2 linked regions of the Homo sapiens genome follow. Changing the gene in region 1 together with any one later gene gives a genetic interaction. Each region holds a gene or a part of one and is shown on either strand. Other genes may lie near its edges.

What was found. A genetic interaction does not mean that the proteins touch.
Region 2: changes in ASCC3 (region 1) and EIF3H together harm fitness less than expected from each alone (positive genetic interaction), as found in Homo sapiens cells (one large-scale study listed by BioGRID).

The regions. Positions count from the first base shown.
Region 1 is NC_000006.12:100,869,941-100,875,703, forward strand, and holds part of ASCC3 (activating signal cointegrator 1 complex subunit 3), read right to left. Parts: intron 1-5,763. UniProt on the Homo sapiens protein: ATPase involved both in DNA repair and rescue of stalled ribosomes. 3'-5' DNA helicase involved in repair of alkylated DNA: promotes DNA unwinding to generate single-stranded substrate needed for ALKBH3, enabling ALKBH3 to process alkylated N3-methylcytosine (3mC) within double-stranded regions.
Region 2 is NC_000008.11:116,728,324-116,732,855, forward strand, and holds part of EIF3H (eukaryotic translation initiation factor 3 subunit H), read right to left. Parts: intron 1-4,532.

The sequences.
Region 1 (5,763 bases):
AAGCTCACTAAGAAGACTTAAAAGTTCTGAATTTGTATGCACTGCTAGGATAGTCTCAAAATAAAACAAACAGACCTCAAGGAGAAAGTGACAAGTCTAACATCAAAGTAAAAGTTTAAATACTTCAATTATTGTCAGGTCAAGCCAATCTTCCCTCCAAAATAAAAAATCAATAAAGATATAGAGAACCTGAAGAGTACAATTACTAAGTCTGATTTAATGAACAAATATAGAAACCTGAACTTGATTTTAAAAAATGCATATTTTTAAAAATGCATTTTTAATGCATTTTTTAATGCATTTTTTCTCATGCGTCAGGAGGCTGATGCATGAGAATCGCTTGAACCTGGGAGGCAGAGGTAGCAGTGAGCCAAGATGGCCCCACTGCACTCCAGCTAGGGTGACAGAGTGAGAGTCCGTCTCAAAAAAAAAAAAAAATTAGGTTTGGCAAGCGCAGTCTCTGCCATACATTCATTCCTTTTTTTAAAAATGACACTTTAGAAGTGTAAAACCCATTCTGGGGCTCAGGGTGACCAAATCTGTTTACTGATCCCTGATAGAGGTCACATTCTTTGAGCAAAATATTTATTACAAATCAAAAACAAAAAAATGAGGTATTAAAAACAAACATGATTGCACTGCAAATCAGTAAAGAACTGGTATGAGGACAGCTGGGGAAAAAACAGTTGGACTCTCTACATCACATTGGAGAATTTTAAACAGAGAAGTCAAATGATCCAACTTACAAATAAACTTCTAAGTTAGCTGACTTCAGATTTCAACTACCTGTTGGGAGTGAATTCAGGAGAGCATGGAAATAAGATGATTCAGGGAATCACATCTGGATTTTTCTAACACTAGATAACATACTTCCTGGAGCATTTGGAAGAAAAAAATGAAAGCAAGAGTCAGTGGACAGCACAGAGCAGAGATTCTCAAACTTTATTATATATTGAAACTACCTGCAGGGCTTCTTGAAAAACAAACTGGCTGAGCCCTACCACCTTACTCTCTTCACCCCAATATTCCAATTCAGCAGATCAGATGGCACTGAGATGAGGTTTGAAAATTTACATTTCCAACAACTTTGCAGATGATGCAGTAGGTCAAGGATCGTAGTTGAGAACCACTGTCTTAGAGATGATGTCTTTTATTCTTTTTTTTTTTTCTTTTGAGACGGAGTCTCACTTTGTTGACAAGGCTGGAGTGCAGTGGCGTGATCTCGGCTCACTGCAACCTCCACCTCCCAGATTCAAGCAATTCTCCTGCCTCAGCCTCCCGAGTAGCTGGGATTACAGGTACGCACCACCACGCCCGGCTAATTTTGGTATTTTTAGCAGAGATGGGGCTTCCCCATGTTGGTCAGCCTGGCTTCAAACTCCTGACCTCGTGATCCGCCCGCCTCGGCCTCCTAAAGTGCTGGGATTACAGGTGTGAGCCACCATGCCTAGCCAATGTCTTTTATTCTTAAATCACCGCTTAATTTTGTCTCAAGCCAATAATGGCCAAGGAAGAAATTCATCTATTAAGAAATCCATGGACTGGGGGCCAGGCACAGTGGTTCACACCTGTAATCCCAGCACTTTGGGGCCAAGCCAGGTGGACTGCTTGAGGCCAGGAGTTTGAGACCAGCCTGGGCAACACAGTGAGACCCCCAACTCTACAAAAAAATTTTAAAAAGCCAGGCAAGTGGCATGCACCTGTAGTCCCAGCTACTCAGGAGGCTGAGGTGGGAGAATTGCTTGAGCCCGGAAGGTCAAGGCTGCAGTAAGCCATGATCATGCCACTGCAGTCAGCCTGGGTGACAGAAATCCATGGCCTGAATTCAGTGCATAGCCTGGCTCCTACCAGCCTTTCTCAATGGGGGTCTGTAAGAGAATACAACTCTTTTATTGAAAGTGACTTGACTTTTTCTCAATTCTCCCAAGAATTGTACACAGTACACAGTATGTTTGTACACAGTACACAGTATGTATGTACACTGTACATGTCATCCATAGAGAGGAAGTAAGGTATACAATGGATGCCAAAGCATTGGGGTTTTTATTTTCTACCCACACTGAGACACTGCAAAAATGTATTCAAGATAACTAAATTTAGTCAAGTCTTTAAAGAAAGGCTCTGATAGTAAACTAAACATACTCTGCCTCAGAACCTAGAACCTACCTTTTACCACACAAGTTAGTGCTTTCAAAATGTAGCATCAGAACAAGAAACATGATGTATTAATACTGTGCCTCTGGCATGGTCTTACAAATTAATGGGGTACTTGGGACCACTACTTTCACCATTTTTATATACATCACAGTAATGTCCTGAATCCTCTGTGCCTTTCTTTTTTAAAAAGTAGAAAGCAAGACTTCATTTTTATTCTAACTCACAAACCTAGCAAATCCTAACAAGATAATACACTCAACCTCTAAGAAGAGATCTAATATTAGGATTCGGTAATGAGGTCACATTGTTACAAACTACAGTAACTGAAAACTTTAAAGCTCCCTGAGACCTGAGTAGAAAAAAAAAAGGGTCGGGGGGGGATCATGGCAGACGGGAGGCAGGACTAGACTGCAGCTCCCACTCTGACAGAGCACCGTGTGGAGTCTTGCATTGTAAACTCTTGCTCCAGAATGACGGCAGGAATAAATCAGGAAAGCCAAGAGAACCCACAGACCTTCTGAAGGAAGCAGATTGCTCCTGCAGGGCCCAGGATATACCCCAAATACTGTGCTGGTATCCATGACTGAGAGACCCACAGACGGTTCACATCACAGGTCTCTGTGTAGACAACCCCCAGTACCAGCCCAAAGCCTGGTAGACCTGCTGAGTGGCTAGATCCAGAAGAGAGACAACAATCACTATAGCTTGGCTCTCAGGAAGCCATATCCCTAGGAAAAGGGGGAGAATATCATCAAGGGAACACCCCGTGGGACAAAATAATCTGAACAACAGCCTTGAGTCCTAGACCTTCTCTCTGACAGACCCTACCCAAATGAGAAGAACCAGAAACCTAACACTGGTAATATGACAAAACATGGTTCTTTAACACCCCCCCCAAAAAATCACAGTAGCTCACCAACAATGGATCCAAACCAAGAAGAAATCCCTGATTTACCTGAAAAAGAATTCAGAAGGCCAGTTATTAAGCTAATCAAGGAAGCACCAGAGAAAGGCAAAGCCCAATTTATGGAAATTTAAATAAACAATAAATGAAGGGAGAAATCTTCAGTGACATAGACAACATAAATAAGAAACGAAACTTCAGGAAACAATGGACACATTTATAGAAATGCAAAATCCTCTGGAAAGTCTCAGCAATAAAATTGAACAAGCAGATCTTCAGAGCTCGAAGACAAGGTTTTCTAATTAACCCAATCCAACAAAGGCAAATAAAAAAGAATAAGAAAATATGAACAAAGCCCCCAAGAGGTCTGGGATTATGTTAAATTACCAAACCTAAGAATAGTCAGCGTTCCTGAGGAAGAAGAGAAATCTAAACGTTTGGAAAACATATTTGGGGGAATAATCTAAGAAAACTCTCCCAGCCTTGCTAGAGACCTAGACAATCAAATACAAGACATTCAAAGAACACCTGGGAAATTCATCACAAAAAGATCATCGCCTAGGCACACTGTCATCAGGTTATCTAAAGTTAATATGAAGGAAGGAATCTTATGAGCTGTGAGGCAGAAGCACCAGGTAACCTTATAAAGGAAAACCTATCACATTAACAGCAGATTTCTCAGCAGAAACTCTACAAGCTAGAAGGGATTGGAGCCCTATCTTCAGCCTCCTTAAACAAAACAATTATCAGCCAAGAATTTAGTATCCAGCAAAACTAAGCTTCATAAATGAAGGGATGGTACAGTCTTTTTAGGCAAACAAATGCTCAGAACACGCCACTACCAAGCCAGCACTACAAAAACTGCTAAAAAGAGCTCTAAATCTTGAAACAAATCCTGGAAACACATCAAGTAAAGCTCCCTGAGATCTTATCAAAATAATCAGCATGAAATTATGCTTGTTAAGGGAATGAAGCAAAGCACATTACCAGATTTGCTATTTTTATTTGATGTGTTTTCTTCCCCAGGTTGAATGAGCAACACTAAAAATGTAACAGCTCATTAGTTCATTGTTACCTATAAATCATTTATACACAAATATTTGAGTTTCTCCTATCTACTAGGATCTGGGCTAGGCACTGGATGTTAATGAAGTTTACAGTTCTTCAAAACTCATTGCATTTTAGGCTGGGCGCGGTGGCTCACACCTGTAATCCCAGCACTTTGGGAGGCCGAGGCAGGCGGATCACGAGGTCAAGAGATTGAGACCATCCTGGCCAACATGGTGAAACCCCGTCTCTACTAAAAATACAGAAATTAGTTGGGCGTGGTGGTGCGCACCTGTAGTCCCAGCTACTAAGGAGGCTGAGGCAGGAGAATCACTTCAACCCGGGAGGCAGAGGTTGCAGTGAGCAGAGATCGCACCATTGCATTCCAGCCTGGCAACAGAGCAAGACTCTGTCTCAAAAAAAAAAAAAAAAAAAAAACAACTCATTGTATTTTGTACCAGGAAAAAGATTCCCTTTAAGTTTTATTTGAAATGTATAAAGGTCAAATTGAGAAAACAAATTTTAAATATTATGTTATTCATTCACTAAGCAAATATTTATAGATCACCCACCATATATTAGATATTTTATGAGGCTCTAGAGATTAAAAAAAGAAAAACATTTTGATATGATTGCACTTGCCCTCAATGATGAGCTTACAGTATGGTTGGGAAGAAAGAAAAATAGTTGCAATAATTATGCAGCTATAACTGTAGGAAGACAGGGAAGGAGCATCTAAAGGGGTGGGAGGGCACTAGATATAAAGAAGGAAGCTGAGCTTGAGCTGAGACTTAAAGGACCTAGACAAGGTTATTACAAGAGGTAAACTATGAGGGGGAAAGCCAAAATAACAGACTTAATTACTTTTAAAACCCCTACAGAATGTGCATTTGGAAACTGATGAAATAAGACCTAAAAATGTAAGCAGAGACCAAACAACATGTCTCAAATTAGGCACTTTTCATTCTGATAATCAGAATCACTGAAAAAATACTAACATGTTACAGAAAAATTACTCAGATTTACATGTGGTGAACTGTCAAGGTGGGGTCAAACAGGACACAGGCAAACCAGTTGGGAAGTTATTTCAATAAACCAACTGAAAGACAGAGAGGATAGAATTAAGCCAGGGAAACACATAAAAGGATGGATTTAGGAGATCAGTATACTTGGAAGACAGAATCAATGTGGAATAGGATTTAAAGAAGGAGAAAGGAGCAGGACACTCAAATTTCTGGCTTAGGAAATGTTGAAGAGTGGAGGAGTCTATATGTATAGAGGGCATCAGGAAGAGGAATGATAATTCTGTTTTGGAAAACTTTAATTATGGGCTATCAAGTGGGGCATATGGTTTTGGATTTCCTATCAGAGGTCTGGGCTGGAAATCCAGAATTTCATGTTATCACTTCATCATAGTTAAAACCATGGATGAACATAATATTGTCTAAGTCAAATATACATAAGCCCATGGACCCTCTTCCTAAGAAAACAGACATACATACATATAAACAACATTTTGTACTCCATTTCAAAAGCTGCATGAATGCCCATTCATGCACTCCACCCCTAAAGGCCTCTTGGAAGTAGACAGTAGAGAGTTAAGAACAGAGTTCTAAGAAAGTGATCCACAAATCAGTTGTCATATGGAAAAGTGA
Region 2 (4,532 bases), on another chromosome or scaffold:
AGAGAAATTAAGTAAATGGCTAAAGGTCACACATCTAGGAAGTAGTAGAGCCAAGATTTAAACCTAGTTTAAACCTAGTTTTAGGTTTAAAAGTAGGTTTTTAAACCTAGTTTTTAAACCTGGGAGATGATTTTCATATTAGTAACTAAATTGATAGTTAAAATAACCAGGTAGTAATAGACAACAGATATGCAGTAAAAACTGTGTTATGAATAGACCCAAAAAGACTACACCAGTAAGATACAGAACTCCAAAGGAGAGCAAGCAGTCAGCAGGGAAAAGAGCTCAAAATGGAGTAACACCAACTAATAAGATTGGCAGACCTTCAATACTACGAAATGAAAGTGCACAACCTACACATTCCTGTATGAAAGACCTCTCCACTTCTTGAAAGGCACAAAAATGGACTTGATGAGTCATACAAGTATGGGTATGAGTTCCAGCTCCAGCATTTACTAGCTGTGACCTTGAGAAAGCTATTTAATCTTCTCAAGCCTTAGATTCTAATTTGCAAAATAGCACTATTTCATAGCATTACTGACACTACTAAAAATGACACAGTATAGAGTTCTCTGCACAGAGTCTGCCACATAGTAAGTGCTCAATAAATGACCAATATTGTTGATATTTGTCAATAACTATTTAATGCTTATTCAACATACCTCTCTGCCAAGAAAAATTATTTCTACACTTAAAAAATAGAACAAATACAGGTGATCAAGACGGGATAAACTAAACTGATAAAGAGTTATTACAAACACAACTACCAATTCACCTAGGTTACCTAGATTCCTTTATACTTACCCCTACTAATGAGATTGCTAAACCACTACTGAAATCAAAGTAAACAAGAGATATTAGAAGATATATGAGCTTAACATAGTTCTTCAGACAAATTCTAGAAGTGATTCCTAAACAGCTGATTCCTACATATGCAAAAGGGAATACTGGTGACTAGGACCAGCACAGTTTCATAAAGAAGCCAGATGAAAATAACCTCATTTCCAGTTATGAAGAAAATAGCAATAAAAAAATTAATATATTTTAAAACAAGTTATTACAGTTCAAACTATATTGAAAACTGTCTTAACTCTAACAAAAGTGAATTCTAAAGGGATCAGTAAGGATAATGTAACCAAACAGCACACCAGGCTTGACATGCTTGCCAAACAGCCAATGCAATTTTATGTAGTATCAATAGAATACAGCGCTCCAAGTAAAAGAAATAATTATCTCGCTCTTTCGACATCACTGAACTGTTATCCTCAGTTCTTTACAATGACCCAAGAGAAAATTTACCAGTAACAGTACCAAACTAAGAAATGAGAAAAGCACAAAAAACAATCAGTATGAGTAAGAATCCACAGAAAAGGGTAATTACAAGAGAGAAAGCTTAAAATCCTGTGATGAGAACCAGTAAAATTAATGCAAATCTCTCTCTAGGCAAGGGACACTCAAAAAAAGCACTTTCCAAATACTGAAGAGTTCTTTGGCTGCTTAGAGGATTAGTCTTACTTTGAAGGCAAAACCTAAGAACCACAGGTGACAGTTTCTGGAAAGAAGATTTCAACTCTAAGGATAAATTCTCTCTAGTACTGAAGGCTGTCCAAAAAAGAAAGCATTCAGGAAAGACTCAATCACTAAAATAATTTCCAACTTTAATATTTATGATCTTGTCATTTTAATATAATCTGATAAAGTACTCAGGAAAAAATCACTATTATCAAAACTAAGCTAGCTCATTCTTCATTGTGACATTTTATGATCGTCCTATTTCCTACATACACACTAAAACCTCAGTTCTTTAGTTCAAGAAGTAATGTCATGGAAATGCCTTACAGTAGGATTCATTTGGAGCAGGGGTTCCCAACCCCAAGGCCACGGACAGGTACTGCTCGGGAACTGCTCTGTGGCCTGATAGCAACCTGGCTGCACAGCAGGAGGTAAACTGCCTAAGCTCTGTCTCCTGTCAGGTGACCAGTGGCACTGATTCTCATAGGAGCACAAACCTTTACTGTGAACTGCACATACAAGGGAGCTAGGTTGCATGCTCCTTTGAAGAATCTAATGCCTGACAATCTGAAGTGGAACAGTGTCATCCAGAAACCATCCTCTCACATCCCCGCAACCCCCCACGTGGAAAAACTGTCTTTCACGAAACCAGTCCCTGGTGCCAGAAAGGTTGCAGACACTGATTTAAATGTTAAAAGGAAAGGAAATTCCTGATTAAATATAACTAAATGACATACATACTTCTGCTATTCTACATAGATAACCAAGAATTTGCCATGTATATATATTTCAAAGTTTCATAGATTCGAAGTATCTTTTAATAGAGACAGAATCCATGTTGTGCTCATTGTTTCCCCTCGTGAATGTTCCCATAAAAATGAAAGGATGATTTACTCACCACATCTTCAACACCTAACACAGATACTGGCACATAAAAGATACTCAAAATATATTTTGCTGAAGGAATGAATGGCAAACACTTATCACTTATGATATGTCAAGCACTCCACCGTCTTACGTGCAAGGACTCATTTAATCCTTACAACCACCCTGTGAAGTCAGTTATATTATTTTCCCATTTTACATAAGGAAACAAAGATAAGCTGACAGGGAATTTAGCCAGGGAAGTGAGATCTGACTTCTGAGTCCAAAGCACTTCTAATTACTTCACAATAAATGAGTGATACCAAACTGAGTGCACCAAATATGTTGATAACAGCAAGGCTGAAAAAGACACATGGAAAGCTTAACCATTCTTCAAAACAAAAACACTCTCCTGTTATATTTTGCTTATATGTATCACAAATGACCCCACATTTGTGATACATATACACTCAGGAGCCCTATTTACTCATTCCCAGCTGAGCAAAATCACCTAAAGAGCTTTTTTTAGATAAATGAAGAGGGGTCCTCATTCTGGATACACATTAGAGCCATCTGGGGAGCTTTAAAGTATACTAATGCGTGAGCACACTCCTGAAATTCAGCTAACTGATACCGGCTGGGTTCCTATACTGGGTTTGGTAGGTGGTGTCTGTTTTTAGTTCTCCAACTTACTCTAACATCCTATTTAGTTCTAATTTCTAATGAAGTTGTATGGCCTAGCTTTCCTTTGTTTTTGTTTTGTTGTAACTCCTCAGGTGACTACAATACACTGCTGGTCAAACCCCAATTTCCTTTCCTCTGTTTTAAGACTTCGTGGGTTGCTGAAAAGTGAAGGCACTGAGAAATACAGACCCAAAAGTGAACATGTTGTTTATAAAAGCATAAATATCACCCTAATAAGAGGAATTCAAGCCCTAGTTGGAACAATCTCTACAGCATATAAACAAGAGGGAAGGTAATACCAGCAACCCATCTTGAAACATTCATGTTTTCTGCAGCACAGTAAGACTTACACCTTAGCATCTGACCCCGTTATCTAAGACTGTTAAGAACCGATGCTGACTAGATTTGTTTACCCTATAAATTAGTGGGTAAATGAGGATTCTTCCATGAATTATGCCTCAAGGGACAGAAGCAAACTTGCCAGTAGAAACCCAACTTAGCAAATTCTTCTACACCTTCTGAAACTTTGTCATGTTCTGGGTGTAAATGCTTAAACTACTCTATGTGCCCTAAACAGTAAGTATTGTTCTCTGATTAGGTCAGTTGTCTCTCAAACTGTTTCCCAGATTTCTGAAGTTTACACAGTCTCAAGTTGGGCAGATCTTCAAGGAATCCCAACCTGCAAGATAGTAAACAGATGTCCTGTCTGCTGAAATTACCCTGCAGGGAACAGTTTTCTACTATTGTTCATTATTCAGTGCAAACTATTTGAAAAAGCAAAGCAGACTATACGCCATCTCTAATGAACACAATGCTACTTTTTAAAGTGTCTGGCTTTAAAAAAAAAAAATTAAAACCTATCTTTGCCCAAAAATCTAAAAGCAAGAACGGATTTAACTTCTATGACAAGTATTCTCTGTATTATAGGGTAAAATATAAATACCAATCTAAAATAGCCAAATAAATAACATTATAAGTCAATAAATCTAAAATTTAGAAGAGTTAAGGATGGCAGGTAAAATCTCTCATCCTTCCTAAAGGGAAAGATTTAACAGAATCTCTAAGACCTCCCTATCAAAATCATATCAAAGACTCAGTTCCATGACAGGGAACAGTTCAAATTTGACCAAAATAAATATTAAAGCTTTCTGATGAACTAGAATAATTTCCTATCAAACATAATGTCTGCATAGACCAGTAACTACAGAAAGATTTGAAATCTTTCTGCATAGAATCACTAGGCTTCTGTTATTTTGACTTCTTTCATTCCCTCATTCATTCATTCATTCATTCATTCACTTAGATATTTACTGAGTGACTTTTCAGATCAGTCACCTCTGCCAGGCCCTGGGAATATGAAACTAAATCAAACACATAGGTCTTACTTTCATGGGGCTCATATTTTTAGAACAGCAAGTCTCAAACACACTGTTTCTCTTTATTCTCACACAACACTGCTGACACCAGATGTG